2 separate regions of the Homo sapiens genome follow, and region 2 is linked to region 1. Evidence: fine-mapped expression QTL. A gene starts in region 1. The other region holds a variant in brackets. All regions are shown on one strand. Distances are between the middles of the regions.

Region 1 (5,379 bases):
AATACAATAAAATCACCAACTCAACTCCGAATATCCAAGTTCAGATCCAGTCTCACCATTTGCCTGGATAACCCTAATATTCCTGGCCTTTAGTCTTATTCTACTCTTCAATTCACTGCAGCCAGAATGACTTTTTTAAAATGCAAATCTGATCATTCCAGTCCCCTGCTTTAAAATCCTTCAATAATTTAATAAATATTATAATCATCATCACAGCTAGTCACACTGTGGAAGCTCAGAGGTTCAATGAGAAATTTAGTTACATCCTTTCTGTAGGTTCAACATAAAAGAATCATCAGGAATTTTTTTCAACTCACAAAATTATTTAAACATACATATAACATCAGACACATTTAAAAGAAAAGCATGTAACATTGTTGGTAAAAGCAAAACACCAAAAATAACCTCCAGTCCACAAAAATGGAATACTATCCAGCCAGTAAATGAGGCACTTCCATATGTATTGTTAAGAAATGACCTCTAGGATGTAGTATTAAGTAAAAAAAACAGGCTATGTATAGAATGTAAAGTATGCAACCATTTGTGTACAGTGTCTTAAAAATATAAATGTGTAGGTTTATATATTGGAAATATCACAGAAAGGATACACATGAAGCTGGAAATAGTGGTTGCCTCTAAAGAGGAAAAATGGGTGGCTGGAGAGTGAAGGCGGAACAGAAATTTTTACTACATTACTCTTCCGAAACTTTTGGCTTTTACGTCTAGTTATTATCTATAATTTTAATGTGATTTTCTCCTGTTACTTTAACATTTTTTACTGTGTGTGTGTGTATGACTACAAAGACCTCTTTATATTTCATCTTTATACCAATATTAAAATTACGTACTGATCATTTGATGCAACATTACATTTCTTTCTTGACAACTCAGGAGCTCAACTTCTACAAACATTTTATTCAACATTTTACTGCTATTGAGAAGGCTGTTGTTGGTAATGACCTCAGTGAACACTGCATGATTTCTGTACTTGCTTCTTGGAGAAGCAAGACAGCAGCACCAGGCAACAGAAGTTTATTATTAAACCGACATCGAAGCATTCAGGGATTAAGGAATGCTACAAATCTTATTTTTCTAGCAAATCCAAAAAACAGTGAATCCAAAAAAAGTCCCCTAGTATCCTTTAAAAATAAAAATAAGAAACAGTTCTAGTATCTGCAGCAATCGACAAGGAGGTGAAGTAATACTACAAGACGACATAGTTATATCCACTAGTGCAACGTGATTTAATCCTTACAGAGGTCCCTAAAACATCAGTGCTGGACAACCTCACACGTTCTACACAGAACAGACAAGACGAGGTGCAGGCTCTGTGACCTTATAATGGCACACACACAACTGGCCTCATGCTTCCATAACTTCACTCTGCCTCCCACTTTTTTCAGCCCAACCCCTCCAAACATGGGTCTCGGTCGGTCCCCTTAAGCCACAATGGAGGGAATACATTAGGCTAAGCAAATATTCCCTCAGGATTTCATGGCAAAGCCCTTTCAACCAAAGAAAGGATCGCGACTAAGGAGAAAGATAACAAGGTTTGCTTGAGGAGAGGTCTGTTGAGAGAGGCTACAGTCGGTGGTGGGAGAGAAGCCAAAGTCTGTGACGGTGTCTAGAGGGACTGACACCACATCTACCGGGAGTAAGAACACCATGACAGCGGCTATCTGAAAGCCGTGATGGCTAGGGTTAGTGCTAGTCGGCTTGGTGATGAGCGAGCTGGGAGGGGTTCTACTAAGAAGAGTAGGGCGAGGGGCACATGGGGGACGCAATGGGTTAGGGGGCGGTCGAGACTTTGCCTGAGAACTGTAATCACGTCAGCCCAAGGGAGGATGTAACGTAGTCTAGAAGCTCCATTAAGAGTCCTAAGGGACTCTGAGGGGTACTAATGGGGTCTGCTGGGTTGGGGGGACCGTGACAGAATCTCCGGGGAGGCTGGAGGGCCGGAATGGTGCCCGGCCAATGGAAGATACAGGGGGTGGGGTCTACTGGGGATCCGGGGCCGTGATCTGGTGTTTGGGAGGCTCGGCGCAGACCCGCTCGCGGGGCGTCTCCGCTGGGACGGGGCGGGGCGGCCCGACCGGAGCCAAATAGCGAGGCTGAGACGTGGGCCAGGACGGGCTGCAGGGCCGCTGGGCGCTTGGGCGGGTCTTACCTCGGGCTCCGCCGCGGTGGCCACCGCAGCCCCCTCCTCTTCGACGGAAGCTGCCTTCCACCCTCCGCCCCAGGGTAGGACCGGAGATGGCAGAAGAGGCCGAGGCCACCGAGGGTCGGACGGTTCCGGGAGGGTGGGCCCAGCAGCCTCAGGGTCCGGGCGAGCGGCCGCGGCGCATCCCCCGCCCTGTCAGAGAGACTCCGCCCGGCCTGAGCAGGCACATCCCCCGCCGCACCCCGCCCAGAGAGCACGCGTTGGACCGCCGCCTCAACCGCTGCCAGCGGCCGCCTCTGCCGGTGCAACTACTGCCTCCGCCGCCGCCTCTCGCAGTCCGGGCTGTCCTGTACTCTCTCAACAGACACAGCCAACCGCCGCCGCGTCCCTTATCCGCTTCGGTCGCGCGCCCCCGACCCCGCGCACGCGGCCCCGCCCCGCGCGACTCCCCGGCTGCAGGCGAGCAGGCGCGCGCGCACTTACCTCCCACGCCCCCTACTGCCAGCACGGGTCGGCCCCGCCCTGTCCCGCCCCCGCACGTGACGCCACTGGAGAGTACAGCGTGCGCTTGCGCAGACACGCCCCCTTTCCTACGCCCCAGGCGGCCCCGCCCAAATTTTTTCTTCTTCACCTTACGGCAGAGCAGGGAACTCAGCTTTAGATTCTCCCTGTACTGGAAAGGGATGTCGCAAGGTTGGGGACGAAACCTCTGAGTTTGCGACCGTAGCTGTCGCTTTCCGGCCAACACAGAGGTGCCTGAAGGCTGGTTGGGGTGGTGAGGCCCGAGGCAGGTAAGAAGCCTCCTCCCCACTTCGGTTTGTCTCGGCAGTGGATCGCTCTCCCACCCACTCAGATTCTGGCGTATCCGTGCTCCCTCCCGATTCTGGACCTGGATTCTCAGCGCCGCCGGTCATAGCCCCCGCCCCTTTTCAAACACGCACGCTCTCTCCACCCACTGCCCCCTCCATTGTCCCCGCCCCGACCTCCGTTTCCATTCATTTCTCAGACTTTTCACTGAGTGGTTTCCATGCCTTGGGTTCCAGAATGTCAGAGGCGAATTAAGTGGTGTCAGCTTTTTGAAGTGCTTTTGTATAGGAGACCGTGAGAGAATCCGCAGTGGTAGTACAATAAAGTGACAATAGAGAAAAATGCACGGGATGCTGTCTGCGCACAGAAGAGGGGTCCCAGGTTGTGTAGGAGGATAACGTGAGGAAGCCCTTTCCAGGGTGACTTTTGGGTCACTTTTAGAGGACTGTGTTAAAAGACTAGTAATCCAGTACCTGGTCAAAGAAATACGAAAGGAGGTAAAAGCAGAATAACGGGCGCAAGAGCATGTGACAGTGGTGGTCTGAAAGAGAAAAAAGAAGTAAAATAAACCTGATGGAAACCGTACTAGTGTAGACTTCCCTTTAAAGAAGCATCGTTATAAAGTTAGAGAAATGAGGAACGAGAATATGGCCCTCAGGAATGTTTTCTGTTTAGGTAGAAGACTCAAAAGCGTACCATGAAACCGAGAAGTGGCCTCTTCGAGGGTGAGGGAGGCTAATTTATAAGATCAAGATCACTAGTGGAACGCAACCTTGTATGTGCATTTGAATCACCTGGGAAACTTTTTGTTAAATAAAACCAATACTGTTGCCCCACTCTAGACCAATTAAATTCTGGGTTGTGCCAGGTGTCATTACTGTTTTAAAGCTCCACAGGTGACTCTAATGCTAAAGATTGAGACTCACTAAACTAGAGAGAAGGAAGTTGAGACAGTTGGCTCTGTAACATTAAGATGGAGGTCATTTAGCCGGGCGCGGTGGCTCACGCCTGTAATCCCAGCACTTTGGGAGGCCGAGGCGGGTGGATCACGAGGTCAAGAGATCGAGACCATCCAGGCCAACATGGTGAAACCTCGTCTCTACTAAATATACAAAAAATTAGCCGGGCGTGGTAGCAGGCGCCTGTAGTCCCAGCTACTCGGGAGGCCAAGGCAGGAGAATGGCATGAACCCGGAAGGCGGAGCTTGCAGTGAGCCAAGATCGCGCCACTGCACTCCAGCCTGGGTGACAGAGCGAGACTCCGTCCCCGCCCCCAGAAAAAAAAGATGGAGGTCATTTAACTACAGAGAGGCTTGGAGATGGAATGAGAAACTTGAGCGGCGTTATGTTTGGAATAACTGGTCTGGGAAATGGGAGAAGGAGCCACTCTTGCCTTTCTCTTCAGCACTGTTCATTCCTCAGTGTTTATCAGGTCCAAATTAGTTACTTGTCTCTTTGCTCTCCCGTTCCCTTCCGTCCAGGATTGGTCAGCTGTTGTCTCCAGCCTTAAAGCTCAAAGGCCATCCCCACTTCTGTCCCCAAAATGATCAGAGCTAAGCCAATTTATGAGATGCAGAGACCAACATCCAGAGCTAAGCCAATTTATGAGATGCAAAGACCAACATCCACTCTCATAGAGATTACTACATACAGTGCCTTGCCAATTTAGAATCTTTTTCTATTATTTATCATTTAAGTTAGTAATGAGATATAAAGATATTTAAAATACAGCTCAATTAGGATGGAAAATTACCGTATTAGGGAAAGCAGGCCTTTAAACAAAGAATTCACTTGGCAGGCAGAGAAGCTGTATGAGGTAAAGACCAAGACAGTGTATGGCTGCTATCTATTAACTAGGGTTAATCCAAAAACCTGTCTATCAGACCCAGATAAGAACGAGTTATTGTTGTCTAGTATGGCTAGAGCATAGTATGGAGAGTAGAGGTGGGACAGAGATGAAGATGATAAAGTGGGTGTGAACAGATTATGAGGAGCCTTGAATTCCATGGTGAAGAGTTTAGATTATATTACTAGAAGTAATTAATAAGTACAAAAAAGGTTCTTAACCTCTTTTACCCAGTGGACCTTGTTGGCAGTCCACCTTATAGATTCAGTCTCAGAAAAATGTTCTTAAATATATAAAATAGAATACGTAGTAATATAAAGGAAACTAATTTTGTTAAGTTTTTAAAATATTAAAACAAATGTGTGATATATATGCACTTTATGCATTAAATAAAATCTGGCAGCAGGTCTAATTATATAATTTCTAAGTAGTGATGACTATAAATTATATTTTGAAATGCCTGCAGCAACTTTAATGTGATGTGAAAATATCAGATTTCTATTGGTAAAAAAGAGAGTGCTAATATTGTAGTTTGTGGTCCACACTTATTGAAGAAATGCTAAATT
Region 2 (5,379 bases), 300 kb before region 1:
CTCCTCCCGTCTTTGAGGTTTATCACTGCGGAACGCATCGAGCTCCTCTTTTTCCGCAAGACCATAGGGAATACTCCAATGGAGAAGCTCCTTTGTGATATGTTCAAAAACTAGTGGGGGTGGAGGTGAAATGTTTCCAAGCACTCTGGAAAACAATCTACTGAAACGAAACATTTGCCTACTCTTTGCCCCAGCAATTCCTCGTAGGTGTGTGTACCCAGCAGAAATGCCCACCGAAAGATATTGTAAGAATATTCATAGCAGCTTTATTCATAATAGCCCCAAACTGTATATTGATGGTAGGATGAATTAACAAGTTGTGGTATATTCATATAATGAAAAATAATTTAAAAAGAATGAATTACGGATACATGTGGCAACACAGGTAAACTTCACAGACATAAAAGTTGAATGAAAGAAGCCAGGCCGAAGTTCCATTTATGCAGAGTTCAGGAACAGGCAAGACTAATTGACAATAATAGAAGTTGGAATAGTGGTTACTTCTGGGTGGTGGGGGATTGATACAGAGGGGGCTCATGGGAGCCCTCTGGTGTACCAGAAATGTTGATTTTGATCTGGGCAGTGGTTTCACAAATGTATTCATACGTAATAATTCATTGAGCTGTGCACTTTATTTTGTTAGACCTCAATAAAAAAGTAAAAAAAAAAAACAAAAAAAACCAGAAAAATGAGTGTGGTCAAGGCTCTCCCTTTGGGGACACTGAAGGAATGAGCGCAAGGTCTTTGAGTTCCATCTGGGTTCCACTCCAAGTCAGAGACCAGGCGCAATGAATTCAAGCCCAGTGGAAAATCTCCCATAGAATTCAACCACCCAGCTTCTCTCCAGATGGCATCCCATCATCCGCAGCATCTCTCAACCTTTATCTCCTATCTCCTGCCTCATCTCCTTCCTAAGTAAAGAACACCTTCCAACTCAACATAAGGCAGCTACAGGTACGTTTTGTGAAAGGGACTCTTCATCACTTCTCAGGTCCTTATGGAAAGATACAGCTCAGACAAACTTCATCATTTTCTTTTTCTCTTTTTTCTTTTTTTGAGACTGAGTTTTGCTCTTGTTGCACAGGTTGGAGTGCAATGGCGCAATCTTGGCTCACGACAACCTCCGCCTCCCGGGTATAAGTGATTCTCCTGCCTCGGCCTCCCGAGTAGCTGAGATTACAGGTATGCACCACCATACCCAGCTAATTTTGTATTTTCAGTAGAGACGGGGTTTCTCCATGTTGGCCAGGCTGGTCTAGAGCTCCCGACCTCAGGTGATCCACCCACCTTGGCCTCCCAAAGTGCTGGGATTACAGGTGTGAACCTAATCCTTTTTGAAGATAGACCCAGATGACTGTGAAAATAATATTTTAACATGTTAACATAGATCAGGCAATGTATATATTAATAGCAGGCAGTGAGCCGGGCACTTTTTAAATTGCCATTTAATCCGCAGATTAACTCTGAGGGAAGAGCCAATTTTCTCCATTTATAAGTGAAAAAACTGATGCTTAGAGAGGACTCAAACCTTGGTGTGACTCTACCTAATGCTGCTTAACTTTGGCACCGCCTCTTTCCCAACTTCCCCTTCACTTTTGGAATGAAAGACTGAACAATTCTGTTGCATTTTCTGCCTTCAAAGGATAAGTGTTTGAAATCAAGACAGAAAGGGTCATGTGAGAAGGCTGAGAAATCCTAGGGGTTCCCTGTCCTTTGGCTTGTGTTTGAATTCCCTTAGCTGACAGAAATGCCCTATCTACTCAGGAACTCAGAACCGCTAGGGCTGGTGCCAGAGAGGAAAGAGTATGGCAAATGCTGCCCAGCTGAAGCCCTTCTTACTTCAGCCCCTAGGCTACTTCAGATTCTCTCCAACTTTTCAAAGTATCAGAGTGGCCTCAGTTAATCGGTCAACTAATGTCTATAATGCCATTATACAGTCCAATTCCCTATCAAAAGTTTTATCCATATGAGCTAAGCCCTGAGCAAAGCCACCTTAGTAAGACACATGGTTGAAATATGACATGACCAGCCCTGCGTATGTATCTTACAGTTTGGCTTTGGAGGACATGGTAAGACTGCAAAGGTAGCCTGCTGAAGTTCACAGGCTAGCATCTGGGATGTGTGAGCCCAGCACATCTACATTGGGAAGGAGATTTGAGGGCTCTCCAAGAAGTCTTGGAGAATTAGAGGAAGTACATAAGCTGGATTGTCTGCTGTCAATC[G/T]GGCATCAATACCACCCCTCCCCCACTTCTAAGGGCTTTTCTTCACTGCAGAGATGCCAGGAAGGAACTACATTTCCCAGAAACCCTTTCCCCTAGGATTTGCTAATGAAAGACACTCACAGGAGATTTTTTCCCCCCTAATGCCAAACTGATTAAATTTGGCATTAGGAAAAAGAGAAGCCATTTTTCTTTGGAGACACTGCAGCCCTGTCGTGGGAAAATAGATTTCATAGCAGCCTCCTGGCTAGAATTGCACTAGCTTCCAGGCAAGCTCTTGAGAACTCCTCTGGAACTTGTAGCTGAGATTTGCGTTGGCTTTCTTGACCTGTGGGAATATCTCTGACCTTTGTTAGATCCTAATTTCTGTATTAAGTCCATCTCACCTGGAATACAAAGTGGCCTCTGTTCTCCTAACCTGGTACAGCTCTCAGCATGTCTTACAGACAAGAATACAAACTCCTGTTTGTAAACCACCTAGGATGATGGCAGCCATTATTCAACTTCTTGTTGTAGATTGGCTCTACAGAAATTCTGATGAGTAATGGCTTTTCCATTGCATTTAGGGTCCTTATTAGGAGGGTAGATAATTTGAAAGCTTTTTTTTTTCCCCCTCAATGCCAGAAATATCTTTGGCTATGAAGCACCACAGAGGTAGTCCCTGTGGGACTATCTGGGCCTTTCTTTTCAAATAAAGCTAGTTTTTAGATTCACGAGACACTCCTCTACCCACAAGGGGATATTTCAAGGTAGGAAGGGCAGGGAAAGACTCAAAGATGCCAAGAAGCGCAACCTCATAGTCAAACCCAGGTATCATGGATGACTAGTCTCTATCTGGTGGACATCACTGGTGTTCCCCACTAGAATGCAGGCTCCACAGGGCAGAGATCTTTGTTTTGTTCACTAATGTACCCTAAGCACCTAGGACAATGCCTGTGGGCACTACCTGGAAGTGACACACTCCTTGACTGTGAGTCTGAGATACCTACAAGATTCAACAGTCAGATATTACATGTACTTTATCTACTTTCATGTTTATATCTCTGGCTCTAAGACACTGTACTGCCACCCATTCTAGGGGCAAAAGCAATTTAAAAAACAAACCAAACCAAAGCTGTGGTCACTTTATAACTTGCCTCTCCTTATATACCTTTCTGTTCTCAGGTCTTCATAATCACAATAGTTGTCTTCTCAGTAATCATCTCAGGGGCAAGTTTTAAGAATGTATTTCGGCTGGGTGTGGTGGCTCACACCTGCAATCCCAGCACTTTGGGAGGCCGAGGCAGGCAGATCACCTGAGGTCAGGAGTTTGAGACTAGCCTGGCCAACATGGTGAAACACCGTCTCTACTAAAAATACAAAAATTAGCCAGGCATGGTGGCAGGCACCTGTAGTCCCAGCTACTTGGGAGGCTGAGGCAGGAGAATCACTTGAACCTGGGAGGTGGGAGTTGCGGTGAGCCGAGATTGTGCCACTGCACTCCAGCCTGGGTGACAGAGTGAGACTCCATCTCAAAAAAATAAAAATAAATAAAAATGGTATTTCTAGGTTTTATTTGGGCAACTAAGGGAATTTTAAACAATTAACACTTCATATTTCAATGTAATATAAATTTAATGCAAAAATGAAAATGTAAATGTAACGTAAAAACAAGTGAGAAGGATGACCCCAGAATTTTAAAAATTGAATACATTTGGCATTAGGGACATGTTTTTTTCCCCATGTAACCTCAGACCTGATTTGGCATTTTGGAACCACTGATCCTAGTCAATCCTCTCATCCAATATCTGCCTAGCCAGCACCTTTTATTAGGTGCTGGGATCTAAGAGTCAGCAAGACAGGTAAGTGTTTGACGCTGTGAAAACTGAGAGCTGTTGAGAACACAGACCTCTAACCCAATTCACAGGGTCAGAGCAAACTTCCTAGGACAACTACCTTTTATACTAAAACCTGCGAGTCAGTAGGAGTTCTCCAAAGCTGGGAGTTTGGGAAACAGAACTGACTTCCAGATAAGAAAACTAACATTCAGAGAGAGCGAATGCCTTTCCCAGACATGCAGTAAAGTTGGTAGCAGAACAAAAATGACAAACTGAGTTAAAATTTCTGTTCCTATTGCAATGTGTTGCTTTGAATTTCAGTGAGAATCCTTGGGCCCTCTATTGGCAACCTCTATTAGCAACTTCTTCAAGTGGCCAATTTAGGGGAGGATCCTAAATGCAGATTTACTGCTTTTCCTCCCTTCTAGCCTTAAACCGATTAAATGAAGTCTTGACAGCCAGCAGCCTGCATCCACTACAGAAAAAACGACACCTTGAATCACACCTTCACTTGAATTCAGTTGAGTTCCAGTGACTACCACCTCTGTGCTTTGTCAACTTTGGGTTGAGTCCTTTCCTGAAAACACATCAGTGTAACTAAGAAGTCACTGCTGTTTCTTGGAGTTGGGTTGGAATAGTTGGAGTGGGAGCCAGGATGGTTGGAAAACAAACCACACATATTGCTGCTTCTGGAAGCTTTGTTCTTTAATGAGCCATGGGGTGATTTGTTCATCAAGCTGCTTTTGTGTAGCCATACAGTGCATATTTTGAGTGACACAAACTGCACTTTATACAGATGGTATCTTGTTACCCCTCAACCCCCCAGCAAAGAAAAAAAAACAAAAAGGAAATTACAAAGTGCCTATTGATTGCATCCGGAATGTAATCAGTTCCGTGGGTGAGATAAATCATTCTTCTTATAGAATTATTCTATTAAACAGTAAAATGTTATATTTCACAGGATATGTCCTTTTATAATACAGTTTTTAAAAAAAATTTACACTCAGCATACTTATAAATTACTTAAAATCCATTAAAATAATATAATACGAATCTGTAGTCCACACCTTTCCCATAGTAAATACAAATACTTGGTTCAAAAGGTGCAACTTTTATATGACCTCAGAGGGCTGATAAATAGGCATTAAGAATGGATGACTAGCAAGGTGACAGGCCCATTGTTGGGGCTTTTTTGAAAATAGTTTCAACCAGGGGACCAACATGAGACCTAATAGATCCATCTCCACAATCATCATTTTGCTGTTACCCTTTCAATACCCAATCAAATGTGGGAGTCATTCCAGAGAAAAGTGGTTAAAAGTAGTCTAGGGCATAGAAAAAGA

The links.
Region 2: its variant is fine-mapped to the expression of MYO9A in whole blood (INTERVAL, PIP 0.99).

The regions. Positions count from the first base shown.
Region 1 is chr15:72,115,513-72,120,891 of GRCh38, forward strand. It overlaps MYO9A (myosin IXA), which reads right to left and starts at 2,638. Exons shown (of 42, transcript NM_006901.4): 1 at 2,168-2,638. SENP8 (SUMO peptidase family member, NEDD8 specific) reads left to right here and starts at 2,891. Exons shown (of 2, transcript NM_145204.4): 1 at 2,891-2,952. RefSeq lists an enhancer at 1,580-1,789 and a silencer at 1,990-2,759.
Region 2 is chr15:71,817,571-71,822,949 of GRCh38, forward strand. NR2E3 (nuclear receptor subfamily 2 group E member 3) reads left to right here. Exons shown (of 8, transcript NM_014249.4): 8 at 1-683. The coding sequence ends at 114. MYO9A (myosin IXA) reads right to left here. Exons shown (of 42, transcript NM_006901.4): 42 at 4,721-5,379. Among named protein-coding and RNA genes, the nearest start is that of NR2E3, 9.7 kb to the left of the region's middle. The variant G/T (reference allele first, on the strand shown) is at 2,223.